3 linked regions of the Homo sapiens genome follow. The protein of the gene in region 1 purifies or fractionates together with the protein of each later gene. This does not show direct contact. Each region holds a gene or a part of one and is shown on either strand. Other genes may lie near its edges.

What was found. Proteins that work in one complex are often made in the same cells at the same time.
Region 2: the proteins of P2RX5 (region 1) and USP30 purify together in Homo sapiens (affinity purification with mass spectrometry; 2 studies listed by BioGRID and IntAct, with this or other methods). This does not show direct contact.
Region 3: the proteins of P2RX5 (region 1) and MSMO1 purify together in Homo sapiens (affinity purification with mass spectrometry; 2 studies listed by BioGRID and IntAct, with this or other methods). This does not show direct contact.

Annotation. Positions count from the first base shown.
Region 1 is NC_000017.11:3,672,716-3,679,170, reverse strand, and holds the end of P2RX5 (P2X purinoceptor 5), read left to right. Parts: intron 1-5,293; coding exon 5,294-5,303; 3' UTR 5,304-5,944; downstream 5,945-6,455.
Region 2 is NC_000012.12:109,048,567-109,055,589, reverse strand, and holds the start of USP30 (ubiquitin carboxyl-terminal hydrolase 30), read right to left. Parts: upstream 3,015-7,023; 5' UTR 2,912-3,014; coding exon 2,829-2,911; intron 2,809-2,828; exon of another isoform or gene 1,553-2,808; coding exon of another isoform or gene 1,548-1,552; intron 1,085-1,547; exon of another isoform or gene 798-1,084; intron 1-797. UniProt on the Homo sapiens protein: Deubiquitinating enzyme tethered to the mitochondrial outer membrane that acts as a key inhibitor of mitophagy by counteracting the action of parkin (PRKN): hydrolyzes ubiquitin attached by parkin on target proteins, such as RHOT1/MIRO1 and TOMM20, thereby blocking parkin's ability to drive mitophagy.
Region 3 is NC_000004.12:165,323,523-165,330,682, forward strand, and holds the start of MSMO1 (methylsterol monooxygenase 1), read left to right. Parts: upstream 1-4,146; 5' UTR 4,147-4,242; exon of another isoform or gene 4,243-4,424; intron 4,425-7,160. UniProt on the Homo sapiens protein: Catalyzes the three-step monooxygenation required for the demethylation of 4,4-dimethyl and 4alpha-methylsterols, which can be subsequently metabolized to cholesterol.

The DNA of each region.
Region 1 (6,455 bases):
AGCCGGTGAATGGCAGCGCTGAGATTTGAATCCCGGCAGTGTCTGTAGGATGAGGTTCTCCTGAGTTACTCTGCCTTTGCCGAACGTCTCTGTGCTCAGATGACCCCCCCTCAGCCCCTCTTCTGTGTGCGATTCTGGGGCTGCCCCGGCCTCAGGAGGGTGCTGGCCGTGCTGCCAGGGGGGTCCTTGGGCCGCGATTCCTGGGGGCGCTGGCTTCTCTGCAGACGAGGCTCAGCCTGCGTGGGGAGGGCGTCTGGCTGGGTGGGGGACCTGTCTCGGGCCTGCTCTGCGTCTGCCTTGCAGAGTACCTGTGCGGTGAGCAGGTGCCTGGCCCTTTCTGTGCCTTGTTTTCCCTTTTTTCCCCTCCCAGTGGGGGCTGGACACCTCCTGCTGTCAGACTGGGGTTCTGTGACTCTCTTGCAAACCACACCCCAGGTACTCACTGACCTTGGTGGCCTTTCTCCTGGCCCAGCTTTCATTCCTTGCTGACTCAGGAATTGGCAGCGTTCAGCTGGGAGCTGGGCCTGGGCAGGGAAGGAGCAAGAAATAGACTGGGCTGGAGAAGAGTGAGGAGAGAGAGAGGCAGGGGCTGCAGCAGTGGGGCAAGGAGGCTGGAGGCTAGGGGTCCGTATGGGGTAGACCCAGAGCCTGGCAGCCCTCCTGTGCTCCCTGAGCTGACTCTTACTTCCTGGGTGCTCACTTGAGCTCCCATTCTGAGCAAGCGGGAAGCCCGACGGCCTGGCTTGTCTTGGCTGAGCCTCGCTGAGGCTTGTGGGAGGCTGTGGACTCACAGGCCCACGCTCCAGCTGCCACCGCAATTGCTGCTACTCCTTGCCGGGGCAACTCCAGAGGCTTCTGCCTGAGCATCTATGCGTGCTGGGCTTCCGCAGGAACCCTGGCAGGCTGTGCTCTCTCTGAATGCTCTGCCTGCCTGCAGTGCTGCCAGGAGCGTTGCTGCCTCTGGTGAGGCTGGCCCACCCACCGGCTCCCGACAGTCCTCTCTGCCCTGTGCGCCCCCTCCCGCCCACACACAGGTCTGGCCATTTGCAGAATGCACAGGTGAATTTGGAGCAGCTGCAGACAGTGGAGATGTAGCCAGGGCTGCTGGCTACCAGCAGTGTCGCTGAAAACTTTGGGGCCAGAACAACCCGCAGCTCTGAACTGGGTAGAGGAGTCTGTGCCTGCATGAGACAGGGGCTTCCAGGCACAGCCATCTCTCCTGAACTTTGGGATCTTGCTGCAAGCTTTTTGCTGAGTGAGGAGGGGAGCCTCCCAATGGTCAGAGGGGCTCGGACCTAGAAGAGGAGTCCCTGGAGCAGGTGTCCAGGGAAAGGGACAGGCCAGGGTGCTGAGCGGAAGTGGAGTGTTTGGATTTTCCCTCAACCTGGCTGCACCTTCACTCATTCATATGAGCTGTAAACATGTATTGACGCATGCTGTGTGCTGGGCCCACCAAGAGGTGCTTAAATGAGATGCTGACCTAACCTCAGGGAGAGGGGCCCGCGTGTAATTCCTCCAAAGCCAACAGAGACATCACAGCCAGGCCCAGCCACTCCAGCTGGCCTTCCTCTAGCCTCTAGCAGGGTTTCCGAAATCCCTGCCGAGAATGATGGTTGCTCAGAGAAAGCTCTTGGACAACACCCAAGGGGACATTTGGGCTTGCCCCAAGGATAAAATTTAAAGGTGGCCATGGAGGCAACCAGGAAAGGACTGGAGCAGTCAGGAGGCAGCTGGCTCTTAGTGGGGAAGCCAGCTCCTGGGGAGTCTAGGTAAGATGGGGAAGGGGAGGCAAGAGGCCTCTGCTCCATCTGACTCCACCAGCCTCGGGACGCCCGGGGAATATGGACCTGCCCAGATGGGAGATACAGTCGCCTTGACCCTGCCGAGCTCCTGCCCTCCCCACCCCTCCTCAGAGGCTGGGCCTGAAGTGCTAATGAGATCAAGGATGGCGCCACTCAGCAGGTGTAAACGGGCTGAGTTAGGGAGGCCCTCATTCCCCTCCCTCCGTCCCCACCTGTCTTATGCCACGGCCACACCCACCTACCGCACCCTCAGCTGCTCTCTGCCTCCATCGCTGTAGGGCCTTGCTTTTTATTTATTTATTTTTTTGAAATAGAGTCTCGCTCTGTCACCCAGGCTGGAGTGCAGTGGCGTGATCTTGGCTTACTGGAACCTCCGCCTCCCAGGTTCAATCGATTCTCCTGTCTCAGCCTCCTAAGTAGCTGGGATTACAGGTGCCCACCACCATGCCCGGCTAATTTTTGTAGTTTTAGCAGAGATGGGGTTTCACCATGTTGGCCAGGCTGGTCTCCAACTCCTGACTTCAGGTGATCCGCCAGCCTTGGCCTCCCAAAGTGCTGGGATTACATGCGTGAGCCACCAAACCCGGCCAAGCCTTGCTATTTAAAGTGGGGTCCAGGGACCGGAGCCTGCTAGAAATGCAGGTCCCAGCTCCCCCGCCCCCCACCCAAATCAGAACCTGTGTTTCAACAAGATTCCAAGGTGATCTGTGTGCACAGTGACATTTAAGAAGCCCTGGTTCTCAGGGGAAAAAGGCCAGCTTTGGTGGATGGAGCCAATTTCTAGGTCAGACTTACACGCATGCTGCCTAGAGACCAAGAGGCTTCCTCCCCCACCCTGAAAGCAGCAGTATGCTCAGCTGATTTAAGTTACAATATTTTGACTGGGTAATACTTACATGATTCAAAGTTTAGAAGGTGCAAAGGATAGTCAGTGAAAAGCAACCTCCGTCCTCCCGGTTCCCCAGAGGCAGCCAGTGTTACTAATGCAGGAGGCTCCCTGATTTTGCCGAAAACTCGTGTGGTTTCTTACACATTCACTCAGGTAATGAACTTCTCCTGACGCTGGCGCTTAAGACCCAGTCTCCCCTGTCAAAAATGGACATGAAGTACGTTTCGATGTTGGGCTTGGGAGCTGACTAGCTCTCTTCTCCTACCCCGTTGTATGTGAGTTGTCTCCCCGTAAACCCAAGGTGAGAAACCTGGAGCTCAGCCCTCGCCATTGCCCGAGCCACCTGGCAGAAAAGTGCTCCAGCGCCGCCCTCACTCAACCAGTCCCAGTGCTGTCTGGGCGGCTCCCTGGAAGCATCCTCTTTGGAGGGGTTCTCTCTGCACACAGAAAGGCGGGGGTGGTGAGAGCATCCCTCCACTGAGGCTTTGGAGAGGGATGTCAGGGGCCCAGGGACATGGTCTCCAGAACAGGAACCCTCCTAGAGCAAAGCAACTTCCTCGCTTTGGGTTTTCTGGGAAGGGAACCTGCAACAAGCCTATACTGCTCTCTGATTAGAAAGTAAAGATCCAGGCTGGGCGCAGTGGCTCACACCTGTAATCCCAGCACTTTGGGAGGCCGAGGCGGGTGGATCACGAGGTCAGGAGTTCGAGACCAGCCTGGCCAATATGGCAAAACCCCATCTCTACTAAAAATACAAAAATTAGCCGGGCATGGTGTCCACATGCCTGTAGTCCCAGCTACTCGGGAGGCGGAGGCAGGAGAATCGCTTGAACCTGGGAGGCAGAGGTTGCAGTGAGCTGAGATCATACCACTGCACTCTGGCCTGGGCGACAGTGAGACTCAGTCTCAAAAAAAAAAAAAGAAAGTGAAGATCCAGGTGATCCACTTAGGTGTGTCACTTCTTCACTGACGCAAAGCCTTGCATTTTTATAACTTGGTGACTTTTAGGTTTGGGAGGAAGCAAAAAAGGCAGGGGTCATGGCTGCTGATTTTAACCAGACTTCGAAATGGCTGGCAGAAGCCACAGAACCTGAGGATAGTCATACTATTTGTTTCATATTGCAACAAAAATGTCTTCCTAGCCGGGCACGGTGGCTCACGCCTGTAATCCTAGCACTTTGGGAGGCCGAGGCGGGCAGATTGCCTGAGTTCAGGAGTTTGAGAACAGCCTGGGCAACATGGTGAAACCCTGTCTCTACTAAAATACAAAAAAATAGCTGGGCGTGGCGGCGTGCACTTGTAGTCCCAGCTACTCAGGAGGCTGAGGCAGGAGAATTGCTTGAACCCGGGAGACGGAGGTTGCAGTGATCCAAGATCGTGCCACTGCACTCCAGCCTGGGCGACGGAGCGAGACTCCGTCTCTAGAAAAAGGAAAATGTCTTCCTACAGTTAGTCATTCCTTCAGCCAGGAAATATTTATGGAGTCCCTGTGACATGTCAGGTGTTGGACCAGATGCTGCTGAGACAGAGATGAGCAACACAGACACGATCCCTGCCCCCGAGGGTTTCCAGTCTAATGGGGCATTGAACCCTTACCAAATGATCACACCCGTCATCACAGACGGAATGGGGTGTCGGAGAGGTCAGCGAGTAGTAGCCAGAGAAGGTTTCCCCAAGGAAGTGACCTATGAGTTGAAATCTGAAAGGTTATAGCAGCCTAACTAGGTGAGGGGGAAGCATTCCAGGTAAGAGAAGCACAGGTGTGAAGAGACGCTTTGATATGGGAAGGAGCAACGGAGAACCTGGGTGAAGGCGGCAGACAGGAGCCAGGTTTGGTGAGGCTTTTGTTTAATGAAGTTGACGGTCTTTAGCTGCAAGGTTGCCCCTTTAGACTTTGCTTCCTTAGAGGATTTAACCTCATTGTTTCTTCAAGGCCGGCCAAGCCTTCCAGTGACCTCTTGACTGCCCATCAGGGGCCCCGTGCTCAGAAGAGCCAGGGATCGCCTGACAGCTTCCAGACAGTGTCACACTCTTCCAGTTTCCTTGCTTTTTGCACAGCCCCCAGCTCCCACCATTTTTCTGCATAATCTTGGTGCAAGAGTGGGAGCTCATTACTCTGATGGAAACTGGCTTTTTTTTTTGTATTTTTTTTTTTTAATTTTTTGAGACGGAGTCTCGCTTTATCGCCCAGGCTGGATGGGAGTGCCGTGGCGCGATCTCGGCTCACTGCAAGCTCCGCCTCCCGGGTTCACGCCATTCCCCTGCCTGAGCCTCCCGAGTAGCTGGGACTACAGGCGCTCGCCTCGCCCGGCTAATTTTTTGTATTTTTAGTAGAGACGGGGTTTCACTGTGTTAATCAGGATGGTCTCGATCTCCTGACCTCGTGATCCGCCCACCTCGGCCTCCCAAAGTGCTGCGATTACAGGCATGGGCATGAGCCACCGCGCCTGGCCGGAAACTGGCTTTTAAATGGGGAGAAGTGAAGCATGAACTGTAGCTCTTTTCAGACTTGGGAAGGCCCTTCTCCCTGGGCACTGGTTGCCTCACTGGGAAGATGAGAGTGCCAGCCTCTCAAGAGCTCCTTTCTGTTCTGATATTCCAGGAGCACGTGAATTGCCTCTGCTTACGTTCAGGCCCTGTCCTAAACCCAGCCGTCTAGCACCCAGTGATCCCATGCCTTTGGGAATCCCAGGATGCTGCCCAACGGGAAATTTGTACATTGGGTGCTATCAATGCCACATCACAGGGACCAGCCATCACAGAGCAAAGTGACCTCCACGTCTGATGCTGGGGTCATCAGGACGGACCCATCATGGCTGTCTTTTTGCCCCACCCCCTGCCGTCAGTTCTTCCTTTCTCCGTGGCTGGCTTCCCGCACTAGGGAACGGGTTGTAAATGGGGAACATGACTTCCTTCCGGAGTCCTTGAGCACCTCAGCTAAGGACCGCAGTGCCCTGTAGAGTTCCTAGATTACCTCACTGGGAATAGCATTGTGCGTGTCCGGAAAAGGGCTCCATTTGGTTCCAGCCCACTCCCCTCTGCAAGTGCCGCAGCTTCCCTCAGAGCATACTCTCCAGTGGATCCAAGTACTCTCTCTCCTAAAGACACCACCTTCCTGCCAGCTGTTTGCCCTTAGGCCAGTACACAGAATTAAAGTGGGGGAGATGGCAGACGCTTTCTGGGACCTGCCCAAGATATGTATTCTCTGACACTCTTATTTGGTCATAAAACAATAAATGGTGTCAATTTCAAACGTGTCCTGATTTTTTTCTCTTCATGTTTACCCATCTTTTTTTTTGAGATGGAGTCTCGCTCTGTAGCCCAGGCTGGAGTGCAGTGGCACGACCTCGGCTCATTGCAGCTTCTGCCTCCCAGGCTCAAGTGATTCTTCTGCCTCAGCCTCCTGAGTAGCGGGGATTACAGGCGTGCACCACCATGCACGGCTAATTTTTTTTGTATTTTTAGTAGAGACGGGGTTTCACCATGTTGGTCAGGCTGGTCTTGAACTCCTGACCTTGTGATCCGCCCACCTCAGCCTCCCAAAGTACTGGGATTACAGGCAACAGCCACCGCACCTGGCCCATTTTTACCCGTATTTTAAAGGAAAATGTAAGAAGGCAAGATCAAAAGAGGCAGACACAAGAAACAATTAGTAAGCAATATATTCCTCATCTTGCAAAGAAATTCAAATTATGGAAATGCTTTAAATGAGCAACTATTAAAATTATAGACTAGGAAGGAACTGATAAAACTGGTACTTTTCA
Region 2 (7,023 bases), on another chromosome or scaffold:
TGTCTCTACTAAAAATACAAAAATTAGCTGGGTGTGGTGGCAGGTGCCTGTAATCCCAGCTACTCTGGAGGCCGAGGCAGAATGGCTTGAGTCCAAGAGGCGGAGGTTACAGTGAGCCCAGATTGCGCCACTGCACTCCAGCCTGGGTGACTGAGCGAGACTCTGCCTCAAAAAAAAAAAAAAAAAAAATATATATATATATATATATATGTATATATATGTGTGTGTGTATATATATATAAAATATTTATTGAATGACTGAATACTGGAGAAAATATACAGAAATGAATTTCTCTTTTAGAATATTAGACAGGGAAGGGGCACACATACAATGGTATAAAAGAGCTGAATATTTATAAAATTAAAGATTTCCTAACTTCAGGCTTGACTTGAACGCTGGTTATGCTTTTGCTACATATTAAGAAATTTCCCCAACAATTTAAAACATTGTTTTTATACAAAGTTATATATTTCTACAAAATAAGACAAACCATCTATGTGTATATAGCTATGTAATGTGTATCTGCATATATGTTACACATGCATACATACGTGTTTGTGTGTGTGTGTGTGTAATACATTATTATCCCAGTATTTGGATCATGTGAATATTGTTTTGATTTCAGTTCAGTAAACATTAACTTGGTGAAGAGTCACTGGTGGTAATATTGACCCTGTTTTATAATAATCAGCATTTCTTAGTATCATAGCTGATAGCTGAATTTCAGATAAATATTTGTTTTCCAAGACAGAGTCAACAGAATATGCACCAAACTTGGTTAAGAAAGTGGGATTACCTTATTCTGGTTCAATCCTGGCTTTGCTATTTCATTTGGCATCACTTCACCTTCTAAGCCTCAGTTTCCTCATCTGTACAATGGGGACAATCCATAAGACCTACCTCATAGGGCTGTTGTGAGGATTAAATAAGTGTGAATGCATACAGTACATAGTAAGAACTTAATAAATGTTAGCTGCTACAAATTAAGCATTACAATCTCAGGATCATTCATGAAAGCTATTCTTTCTTTTTTTCTTATTTTTATTTTTATTTTTTTTTGAGACAGTGTCTTGCTCTAGTTGCTCTAGTGCCCAGGCTGGAGTGCAGTGGTGCCATCTCAGCTCAACACAATCTTCACCTTCCGGGCTCAGGTGATCCTCCTGCCTCAGCCTCCCAAGTAGCTGGGACCACAGCTGCACACCACATGCCCAGGTAATTTTTAAATTTTTTTGTAGAGACAGGGTCTCACTACATTGCCCAGGCTGGTCTCGAACTCCTGAGCTCAAGAAATCCACCTGCCTCAGCCTTCCAAAGAGCTGGGATTACAGGTGTGAGCCACCATGCCCAGCTGGTGAAAGGTATTCTTGAAGTTTCTTAATACATCACTGTGCTTTTACACGATACGTGAGTTCACAAAAGTGCCTGGAAAGATTATAAAGGACTGTCATGGAAGTGCTAAGGTGCTTTACCAGTGCTTTAAAATCCCCTAATCAAACACTAATATTTAAGGGTACATACTCTCTGCCAGGCCCTGTGACAATCTTACCTCATTTTTAAAACAACCCCACAGATGCAGGTTCTACTATCACTTTCATTTTTATAGCAGAAGAAACTAAGAGCCCAACTTGGTCACAGTGAGTGAAGGAACATGGCTCTGAATCATGCCTGTCTGTCTCCCCAGGTCTGTGCTTAAAACCACGAAGTTCAAGATGGAAACTGAAGGGAAGAGTGTCAAGGGGATGGGAGAGAGGACTTGTCCATGACTTTGGCAGCATAAGGAAAAAATACCCAGGGACAAGTGGCGACTTTGGAAACTCCATTCCTCTGCAAAATGACATCACGAGGAGAGTGGTGGGGCCTGCGGATGAAAAGATCTGGCTTCTCCTCCCAACTCTGCTATGAGGTCAGCTATGGGGCCACACTTCCTATCTACGGAATGGGGGCACTGGACAGGATAAGTATCGAGGACTTTCAGCCCTGGGATAATAAGCTCTTTAAACCTGCTCCAGTTCCAGAGGAAGCCGACCTGAGCAACAGGTCTCAGTCATTTGGGGTCAGCAGTGGGGGAGGGGGTACTCAGTTCTGAAGCCTGGAGCCCTTGGGAGGGTGAATAAGAGGGAAATGGGGGCCCTGACAGGATTGGGGACCCAGGCAATCGAGGAGTCCTAACAAGAACGGAGGGCTTTAACAGGACCAAGCAACCTTAACAGGTTAAAGGGGCCCTGACCAATTTAGAGACCCTTGCAAAACAAGGGCCTTTACTCACACTAACAACATCAGGGACCCAGACAGAAGTGGCGATCCATATTAGACTAGAGGGCGGGCTAACAGGAATAGGGGGCGGTACTAACAAAACGCGGGGCTCGCAGGCCCGGGGCACTTATAGGACTAGAAGAACCGTGCCAAGGTTGGGGAACCCTGGCAGTCCAGAAACTGATATGATTGGGGGACCCAGAAGGACTGGGGGTATACTAGAAGGATTGAGGGGTCTTGGCAGGCCTAGGAGGCACTGAAAGGACTGAGGGCACTGACAGAATTAGGGGCCTTGACAAGACTGGAGTGCCCCGGGTGTCCTGGGAACAATGACAGGAGGGGGAGGGACTGACAGACCTGGGGAGTGCAGACAGAATTGGTGTTGCCGAAGGACTGGAGCCCGTCAGTCCTCCCACCTACGGGCCCAGGCCTCCAACCCTAAAGGACGCAGAACCTTCCAGAATGCCCGCGCGGGCCCTGGAGACCCCAACTAGGGCATGAAAAAGCCGTCACGGGCCCAAGCTGGGGACCCTGGTCCCGGCCTCTTCGGCAGCCCCGCCCCCCAAAATCTCACCTGACGGCCGCCCCGGTCCGCAGGAAGCGCTGGATGGCCCTGTCGGCCGCGGTCATCGCCGCCTCGGCCCGGGAGCTCAGCATTGCAGCCGCACCGGAGGCCTGAAACCGTCTCCTCCGCTACCGCCGCCGCCGCCGCCGGACCGAGGGATACGACGGTTCCCGAGACAGCGGAACCTGCGGCCGCAGTCCCAGCACCTCGGGGGAACGTAGACCGCAGGACAGCTCCCAGGGGGACCGGAAGTAGCTGCCCCCGGAGAGCAATAGCTGACGGACCACGTCCTTTCTTTCTTTTCCCTTAGCAACAGGCCCCGGCGTCGGTTGCTACGCTGGGCTCAGTTGCCTGGGGCTGCTTGGTTTTCAGATTTGCTTAGGCTCCATTCATAAATACAGATGGCACACTTCTAGGATGGACCCTGGGTCATGATTTGAATTTTTCGATGTGGGGAAGGGAGGCCAACAGCCGAAAGTCGGGTCAGGCCTCTGCTATAATTAGTTATTATTGTGGCCAGAGTGGAAATAGGTCGCAGAGGAAGGAACTTTAATGAGCATGAGGCCCATCTCTGACGATATCAGTAGAGAAATCAACGTCTTTAATAGCCAACAAACTTATTGTTTACTTGGGTGCCAGGTATAGAGCTAAGTATGTTACATTCATTATTTACATTTAATATTCACACCAACTCTAACATTACCCACATTTTACATCCCAGGGAACCCAGGAAATTTGAAGAAATAGTAAGTTTTTTGACGCAGCTTGTAAGTGGTGAAACAGAGATTGGCAGTTCGGTCTGTCTGTCTCCAGAATGGCACTCTCCAACAGAAATATACAGGAGCCACATAGGTAATTTTACATTTTCCAGTAGCCACATTAAAGTGAAAAGCAGGAGGTAGGCCAGACGCCGTGGCTCACGCCTGTAATCCCAGCACTTTGGGAGAACGAGGCTGGTGGATCACCTGAGGTCAAGAGTTCGAGACCAGCTTGGCCAACATGGTGAAACCCCATCTCTACTAAAAATACAAAAATTAGCCGGGCGTGGTGGCAGGCTCCTGTAATTCCAGCTACTCAGGAGGCTGAGGCAGGAGAATTGCTTGAACCGTGGTGGTGGAGGTTGCACTGAGCCAAGATCATGCCACTGCATTCCAGCCTGGGTGACAGAACCAGACTCCATCTCAAAAAAAAAAAAAAAGAGGTCAGGTGCGATGGCTCATACTTGTAATCCCAGCACTTTGGGAGGCCGGGGGGTGGGGGTGGGGGGCACGGATTGCTTGAGGTCAGGAGTTCGAGACCAGCATGGCCAATATGGTGAAACCCCGTCTCTACTAAAAAATACAAAAATCAGCCAGGTGTGGTGGCGCGTGCCTGTAATCCCAGCTACTCGGGAGGCTGAGGCGGGAGAATCGCTAGAACCTGGGAGGCGGAGGCTGCAGTGAGCTGAGATCACACCACTGCACTCCAGCCTGGGCAACAGAGAGAGATTCAGCATCAAAAAAAAAAAAAAAAAAAAAAAAAGCAAGAGGTAAAATTAATTTTAACCATATTTTTTCCTTGACCCAATATGTTCAAAATATTGGGGCAGGTGCAGTGGCTTATGCCTATAATCCCAGCACTTTGGGAGGCCAGGTGAGAGGATGGCTTCAGGCCCAGAGTCCAAGGCCACCTGGGCAACATAGCAAGAACCCATGGCTACCGAAAAACAAAGAAAAGAAAAACAAAATATGTCATTTCTATGTGAAAATTATTGATGAGATAATTTACATTCTTTTTTTTTTGAGATGGAGTCTTGCTCTGCCGCCCAGGCTGCAGTGCAATGGCACGATCTCGCCTCTCAGGTTCAAGCGATTATCCTGCCTCAGCCTCCTGAGTAGCTGGGATTACAGGTGCACACCACCACGCCCGGCTAATTTTTTTGTATTTTTAGTAGAGACGGGGTTTCACCATGTTGGTCAGGCTGCTTGAACTCCTGACCTCGTGATCCATCCGCCTCGGGCTCCCAAAGTGTTGGGATTACAGGTGTGAGCCACCGCGCCCGGCCCATTATTTTTTTGTTTTTTGGTACTAAGTACCTCTCAGTTTGGAGTACCCACTTTTCATGTGCTCAATAGCCCCAAGTGGCCAGCAGCTACCGTATTGGACAGCACAGTTTATAAAGCATTAGAGCCAGCAAGATTTTTCCCTCCCTTTCAATCGCTTTCTCCGACTCCAGACTGAGTAATTGCATTCATGCTGGGGGTGGTGTCGCATACCTGTAGCCCCAACTACAGAAACAAAACAAAAGAAATCAATGCATTAGATCAGTAGTTCTCAAAGTTTTTGTTCTCCGGATCTCTTTGTACGCTTAAAAAGGATTGAGGGATTTTGTTTATATCTAACTGTACTCTGTTAGAAATTAAAATTGAGAATTTTTGTTTCCTTAAAATTGAGGTATATAGGTATATCTTGTTTTTTTGTTGTTGTTGTTTGTTTTTGAGATGGAGGCTCGCTCTGTGGCCCAGGCTGGAGTGCAGTGGCGTGATCTCAGCTCACTGCAAGCTCCGCCTCCCGGGTTCAAGTGATTCTCCTGTCTCAGCCTCCCGAGTAGCTGGGACTACAGGCTCCCGCCACCACGCCCAGTTAATTTTTGTATTTTTAGTAGAGACAGGGTTTCACCATATTGGCCAGGCTGCTCTTGAACTCCTGACCTTGTGATCCACCCACCTTGGCCTCCCAAAGTTCTGGGATTACAGGTGTGAGCCACCGTGCCCCGCCCGGCATATCTTGTTTTATTGCACTTCACTTTATTGTGCTTCGAAGATACTGCATTTTTACAAGTTCAAGGTTTGTGGCTACCTGACTACAGCAAGTCTATTGGCACCATTTTCAACAGCATGTGCTCACTTCGTGTCTCTGTACCACATCCTGGTAATTCTTGTAATATTTCAAACTTTTTTTTTTCTTTTCTTTTTTGCAATAATGCCTCACTCTGTCATGCAGGCTGGAGTGCAGTGGCGCAATCTTGGCTCACTGCAACCTCCACCTCCTGGGGTTCAAGCGATTTTCGTGCCTCAGCCACCCAAATAGCTGGAATTACAGGCACGCGCCACCATGCCTGGCTAATTTTAGCGTTTTTAGTAGAGATGGGGTTCCACTGTGTTGGCCAGGCTGGTTTCGAACTCCTGACCTCAGGAGATATGCTTGCCCTGGCCTCCCAAAGTGCTGGGATTACAGGCGTGAGCCACCGTGCCTGGTCCCAAAGTTTTTCATTATTATTACACCTATTAAGGTGATCTGTGATCAGTGATCCTTAATGTTACTATTGTAATTGTTTTGGGGTGCCACAAACAGCATTCAGGTAAACCAGCCAACTTAATCGGTATTGTGTATGTTCCAAGTGCTCCACTGACTGGCTGTTCCCCCCTCTCTCTCACTCTTCTCAGGTCTCCCTAGCCTGTAAGACACAACAATATTGAATTTCAGTCCACGCCTCTAAATGTTCGAGGGATAGGAAGAGTCGCACATCTCTCACTTTAAATCAAAAGCTAGAAATGATTAAGCTCAGTGAGGAAGGTGTGTCAAAAGTCAGGATAGGCTGAAAGCAAGACTTCTTGCACCAAACATTTAGTCAAGTTGTGAATTCAAAGGAAAATTTCCTGAAGGAAATTAAAAGTGCTACTCCAGTGAGCAGAATGTAAACTAAAAATCCTAAGCCCCGCCAACTGACTGAATGGGCCCCCTCTTGGCCAAGGGGACCTTCAAGAAACCTTAAACACTGAGTTCCCAGCCATAATGAGATGAGAGGTCAGACATGCCTCCTTATACCCTCTTCCTTAGAAGTTTAGACACAACAGCTGACCAGCCTTAATGTTGAAACAGTGATCATAAGACAGACAGAATGGACTGTTTGTGGCAATAAGATACCAAATTATAAACAGGATCTAAGGTCATGCCAAGCAAGGATTGCGTTACACACCCCTGCACTTAAAGAATAAACTGTTTTACATCCGGTTTTTCTTTTTCTTTCTTTTTTTGTTTTTTTTTTTTTTGAGACAGAGTCTCACTCTGTTGCCCAGGCTGGAGTGCAGTAGGGCGATCTTGGCTCACTACAACCTCCACCTCCCAGGTTCAAGCCATTCTCCTGCCTTAGCCTCCTGAGTAGCTGGGACTTCAGGTGCGTGCCACCACGCCTGGCTAATTTTTGTATTTTTAGTAGAGATGG
Region 3 (7,160 bases), on another chromosome or scaffold:
TGTGGTTTTGATACCAAATAAAAGGAATTGAGGAAATAGGAATAGTGGAGTCAGGTAGGCAGCTGAGGTGCTGGACACAGCAGAGGAAGGGAAGAGGGGGAAGGAGGAGGTGATGGGATATTGTGACCATTCCTCAGGAATTAAAAAAGTTGGCATGAGCTGTTGCTAGACCAGTTGATAATCAAGAGGAAAGATTGCTATGATAACATTTCGATTCAAATTTAAACATGGAACCACATTTAATACTTAGTTGAACTTTCCATTATAAATGAATTTAATCAGAAAAAGCCTATGCTCAGTTGATGAAAACATGAATTTCTGCCTTACAGCACATCATTGTCAACAAACATATTGAAGGTCTAATGAACTTGGAGTAGTCAGCTGTTTCTGACAGAGGCACCAAGAAAAATGTATGAGGTCTCTGTCTGTCCTGATCACTTCCAAACACTAATGTTCTATATGAATCTATCAATTAAAGATTTATCTGAAAAATCTTAAAGCTTTTCTTAAAATATAATCTCAGCCTATTAAAGTAACAAAGACTTAACTACATAGCATGTCAAATACCTCTATCTTTACTTTCTTAATCTTTGAAGCTTTAATAGCTATACTATAATTGCCAAGGTTTGTCAGTAGCTGGATTCATAGCTATGATTTCAGAGACTTTAGACATACCTCCTTCCCCCATGCCAACCTTTGTCTTTCCAGTTTGAAATTTTTTTAAAGGCATATGGAAGTGTTCTCAGCCTGTTCCATTGTTGTATGAAAAATAAGAAGGCAGAGAGGTGTCTTAGAAATCCTGCCAAGGAAGCAGCCCCACGTTTGAGCAGAGTTCAAGGCTGGATCCACATACCTGCGTTGTGAAGCAACTCGTCTGCCTGCTTTGTTGGGATCTATGCCTCCTTGGCTGAAAGCAGTGATGACTGTGGTTAAGGCGGAAGGTGTATTTACTGTCAGAAGACTATCAGTTCTTTCCCTGTTTCTTATGGAGTCTGGTGTATGATTCCTGGTATTTATTATCTCTTTATCGTTCCTTACAGCATAAGAACCCAGGTATTTGTAATCCTAACTGCTGTTGCGTTATGAGACTTAACTTTATGAGGTGTAAAAGGGTCACATGAAATTACATAGCAGTGTGCTGACACCATCTTGGTTTAGTTTTGTCTTAAGCACACTGCCTCCTACTGACTTCCATGGCTGCCAGTGTCTCATTTTGGAGAGGAGGCTACGCTGGAGAATGGAACTATATTTTGAGTCAAGATTCTGGGGTTCTAATCCTGGCTTTAAGGAAAAAAGCCATGTGGTATATTGGAAAGCCCATGGGCATAGAAACAAAAGGGTTCTGGGTTTGCAGCTCCCTCTATCAATTGCTAGCTGTGACTTTCAACACATTACTTAACCTCTAATCCTTATTTTGTTTTTAAAATGGCAATAGGAGTGTCTGTGTCACAAGGTTGTTGCGTTTGAAAGAAATGATGCATGTTAATATGCTTGAAATCCAGCGGGCCCTCAATAAATTACAGCTATTGTTCCCTGAGCCCCCTGTTAATCTTCATTGTAGGGAAATAAGTGAGTTGAGCTGCTGCATCAGCATTTTTTTCCAGCTCTAAGCCTTTAAGGTTTAAAATAATCTGACCCCTCCATACACCTACACCTGCTCTGATTTAGAAAATGTAATACTGTGGTAGAATTCCAAATCAGAAATAATTGCTGACATTTACTGATCATATCTTGTATGCCAGAGACTGTGCAAAGGGCTTTACATACGTTATCTCATGTAATCATCATAAATAACTCTTCGAGGTGTAGGTATTATTATTTCACAGAAGTACCAGATAAGACAGAGAAGTAACTTATCCACTGCTAATAAAATGCCAAGCCTAGTAAGTGTGGCCCGATAGTGTGTGCTATTGATGCTCACCTGATAGAGGATGGCAGGTTTGGGCAGAGAGAAAAGTTGGGTGGCAGTGCAGTCATCACACAACCAATAGGATGGGGAGCTCTGGAGCTGGGATGGCCAAGCAAAGTAGCCCTACATTGGTTTAGGGGATTTTATACCCGTTTCAACCAGTTACTTGACTAGCTGTTGCCTAGAAAGGGGGTATACCCGTGGGGAGAGGTGCTTCTCTTTGGCAGTACTCAGCAGCTGGAGGAATGCCTGCTTAGGTCTTGAAGAGGGGGATCTGGGTGGTGTGCCACAGCATCCACTACAGGACCAACAGATTCATATGCCCACTGCACAGTATACACTGAGACAGCAGGGTTTGCAGAAGAGAAAGAGTTTAGTGATGGCAGGGTGCCGAGAGGAGATGGGAGGAAACCCTCAAATTCATCTCTCTGAGGAGTTCTGTGCTGGGGCTTTTAAGGGGATCCTGGAGGGCAATGGGCTGGAAAATTAGGGTCCTCGATTGGCTGGGGTAAGGAGGAATGAAACCATCAGGATGTGGGAACTGCATTCTTTGGTGAGTCAGCTCCTTGTCAGACCAGCTGAGTCAGTAGTTTCATCAGTACGAAGGACCTGAAAGGTTATCTCAAAGCACAAACTTAACGTTTCATAATGTTCAAGTTGTTGTCTATAGAGCAGTTAGGGGAAACTATAACCTTGTAACAGAGTCTACATGATTCTGAAGCAATAGGCAAACAATTATGAGGAAGGGGTCAGACAGCAAGCTGACCTAATTATTAATCCTCAGTGTGCTGCAAGCTTGGTTTAATTTCGTTCCCCCCACCCCTTTTTCCCAGATTAACTTCATAAAGTATATAGGCATGGTTTCAGACACCACTGTAAAGGCATCCTAAAGACAGGGCTGACTCTGACAACCAAGGGACAGATCCCATTTCTTTTCATTTGACGTGACCGCTGTCATGATACTTTACAAAGAATGTGTGTGCCAAACATGAGGGATAGACGAATAAGTACAGGTCACACTGAATCTAAAAAAGACACTTTTCAAGAGGGAACTTCCTCAAGGAGATAGTACCTGAATTGATGGGGCGGCATGGAGATGGCTGATTATTCCAGGCAGAAGGGCCAGTTTGAGCAAAAGCATGGAGGAATGAAACAATAGTATTCTGTTTTCAGAAGCTGTATATATTTGACACAATATACACATAATCAAAACATGTGTACGCCGTAAACACAATTTTTGTCAATTATACCTTAATAAAGAAGGAGGAAAAAGGGCCTTCACTAGCCCAAATGATGCCCCTGTGCGGTTTTTTCTTTAAAGGCACCTCTTCCGTTAAGTGAAAGTTTTAGTATATTATCACATCTGTACAGTTTTATTATTAAACCCCAGTACACAATATTTTAATGTTGAGAGATGGTGTAAACTGAGCTTTAGAGCTGCAAAGACCTGCGTCAAGCCCCCGCCCCCGCCCCCGCCCCCGGGCACTCATCGTCCAGCACAACAATTGCAACAACACCTGGGCGTTCTCTGCCCATGTAGCGAGGTCAAGGTCCTGGGAGCCGAACTCTCCCTTGATGTTCAATCTTTTTAAATCTTTCCCAGCCTTTATTTCTCATCTGCAAAATGACGATAATCGCATTTGAAATTCTCCGTTTTCAAAATGCAGGAATTTATTAAAGGATACGTAGGCTGGGGAAACAAGGGAGACGAAAGATCTAAATCTAAATGGTAGACCAGAAAAAGGAAGGCAAGGGTGTCTGGAAACACAAAACAGTCAACATAGATTTTAAGACTCATCTATACTCTCTTCTTCCCGGGTTTGGGAACTGCGGTTGCTACACAGGTCACATTTGAAATAAAAGTCCTGGGACGGCGGCCGGCGCGACACTCTCCCCCGCACAGCGCAGGCTCTCACTGGGAATCTGCCGGGACCGCAGTTGCCAAGGCGACTCCGCGCTGCAGGGCGAGGCGGCCATCCGTCTGTGCCCGCCCCCTCACGCCGTGGCGCGCTCTCACGCTTCCCCGCCTCCGGGCGCTCCGCGGTGCCGACCATTGGCTGGCTCTGCAGGTCTCACTATCCTCACTCCATCCGCGGAGCCAATGGCTGGGACCGCCAGGAGCTCGTTCGCGCGAGTCACACGATGTCGGCAACTGCACAGACCAATCACCGCGCCGAGAAGGCGGGGCGGGAGCTCTCGCAGGCCAATAACGACAGGACGGGCCGCCTGGCCCACCCGGCTCCACCCCCAAGCCAGGCGAGGCAGGTTCCGAGGTTGGAACACCTGGCGAGTCCTCGGTGTCGGTGGCCGGCAGTCATCTCGCGGCCGTTCAGGTGAGGGGGTTGGAGGAGTGGCTCATGAGCGAGGAAGGGGGAGCAGGCGGGCTCCCACCCGGTGCTCCGTGAGATCGAGGGGAGCGGGTTCTGGGTGCGGATGCACGCGCTGGGCGGGACGCTGGCAGTGGTACCCGAGACGGGGCGGAAGGAGACTGGAGTGAAGGTGGGCCTAGGCTAAGGTACGTGCTAGAAAGGATGAAAACGGAGTGAAATTCTTAAGTGATGGAACTAGGCTAGGGCATGTTTCTTGCCCTTTAAAATGTGTTGTCTTCGGGAGACAGGACGTAGAAGATAGTTGCAGCACAGGGTGATAGGCTGGCGAAAGTTATACAAAAGCAGGAACCACTAGAAGGAGGTAAGATGTAGTGTGCTTTGGGAGTAGTGGGGTTGGGAAGGGCGTCCGAGAGGAGGTTACTGAAGGATGACTAGGAGTTGAATGGGAGGACATCACCTGTAAGGGAACGATATTTCCGTGGGCAGAGAGGAATGAAGCAGTAGCAACCATGAGTGATCAGATACTGCAAAAATGTGAAGTGTAGGATGGCGAGAATGTAAGAAATGAAGAGTGAAGAAGTCTGGAAGGGCCTCGTGTGCATCAATCACAGCGGGGCTTGATCTTTATGCTTAGGGCAAGCACTCCCTTGAACTTTGAGTGTTTTAAGGAGGTTATCTCTGATGTTTAAATTTATATAGATCGTGGCATTGCATCTTAGAAATAAGGTTTAGGAAGGGCAAGCTTGGAGGCAGGGCAAGTCCAGAAAATGAAGGAGCTGGTGAAATCCGTGTTAAAGTGCCAAAGGACAGAGACTGGCTGACAGCTAAACTTCAAGGTTTCTGAGAATCCACAAATAACTAAATTTATCTAGTCAACCTGTTCCAGAACAGGCTTCCAGTCATTTAGGTTGCCCAAGAATGAGTAAAGGAAAAGGAAATTCAATTTTCCAAGACCTTGTTTCCCCTCTCCTCTTTAATTCCTTGTTCGGTTAGCAACAGTATATCCATTCCCTCGCTCCTTTGTGAAAAGTAAATTCCTGAATGTTAACTAAACCAAGTGTTTCTAAATTGGGTAAGAGTTTGAAGACTTAAGGCAGCAGAATGGGAGAGACTTAAAACGTTATGTCTGAGAATTAGGCATTAAAGGAGGCCTAGTATTTGGGCGGGGGTTGTGAGGAGCACATACTGAACCTTTGGACCTGTTGAGTGAGTTCATGTGCCTCTGAACTCTCTGACTGGATATGACCAGTAAACTTGGATAATTAGATCCTGGAGTTTAGGGGAGAGGGCTAGAGATAGAGATGATGGATGTCAGCATATTTTTAAAACAGAAAATAGTTAAGATCACCCAAGACAATCTGGAATCGTTAGAAGGGAGTAAGGAAGGCATTATTGGGAAACTTTCCAGCTTCAATTCTCATATTTTTTCTAATCTCCTGGTTGAGTCTTTGGAGTTGCTGTTCTCTCTATGCAAAACCCCTCCCTTGACCCTCTCTCCCTCACTCTATTTTTTAATTTGTCACCTCCTTCTCCTGTTCTAGGTCTCAGTTTAGATAGCACCTTTCTCTAGAAGTTCATAGCACTGTGTATTCCCCCCTTTATTGTTCTTATCACATAATTTTTGATGGTTTGGACACTAGTTGTTATTCCTCACTAAATTTTATGTTTTATGAACTCAGGGGTAAGGGCACCAGCTAGCACAATGAATGCACAATACTTGTCAGAGTGAATGCATTTAAGTTCCAAGAACCAAGGAAAGGCGGTATTTCAAGAAGAGAAGTATCAAATCTTCCAGATTAGTCAAATAAACTCCAAAAAAAAAAAAAAAGGTTTATTGGATTTGGCAGCTGGAGATCCATAGCGATTTTTTTTTTTTTTTTTTTTTTTTTTTGAGACGGAGTCTCACTCTGTCGCCCAGGCTGGAATGCAGTGTCGTGATCTCTGCTCGCTGCAACCTCAGCCTCCCGGGTTCAAGCAATTCTCCTGCCTCAGCCTCCCCAGTAGGTGGAATTACAGGCATACGCCACCACACCCGGCTAATTTTTTTGTATTTTTTTGGTGGAGATGTTTCACCATATTGGCCAGACTGGTCTGGAACTCCTGACCTTGTGATCCGCCCACCTCAGCCTCCCAAAGTGCTGGGATTACCAGCGTAAGCCACCACACCCAGCCTCCTTAGTGATTTTAGTAAGAGTAAGTTCAGTGCAGTGATGACAATAGAATGCAGATTGCAGTTGCTAGAATATAAACAGGAAATAAGAAGATAAAGACAACTCGTGGAATACCTTTTCATAGAGCTTAGGTAAACTGTAGGAATTATTCTCCTTGTACTCTAATACTTATTATGGGTTTTATTTATAATTATAGTGTAATATAATGGATGAGTGCATGGGCTTCCCCACTTAGCATTTGTTAAGCATTAACTTAACATTAAGCATTAGACTTTGGGCAAGTTGCTTAATCTTTCTAAACCTCAGTTATTTTATCTATAAAATGGTGATAAAATAATACCTACCTCACGAAGGTGTGGTAAGGATTAAAGTGAAAATGTAGAGAGCAGGTAGCATGCTTTGAACACAGTTCTTGGCACAGAAAGTGCCCAATAATTGTTAGTTTCTTGTAGCTATTACATGCCAGGTCCTGTGCTAACTAAGCGCTTTATATGCATTGTCTCTTGGACTCATTGGAAGACCTACTGTTTTAATTTTTGCTGCTGATAAAACTGCATCACAGAGAGGTTACCTAATTTGCCCAAGGTCACAGGACAGGACTAGTAAGTGGTCTTGGTTCATTATTGTCAAATTTACTAATCACCTTGAGAAAAATTAAGATTGGATGGTTGCCTTATTTTACAACTTAGAAGATGATTGAAGACATTTTGGTGCAGGTGGGGAGCCAGATTGCAAGTAGCTCAGTGAGTT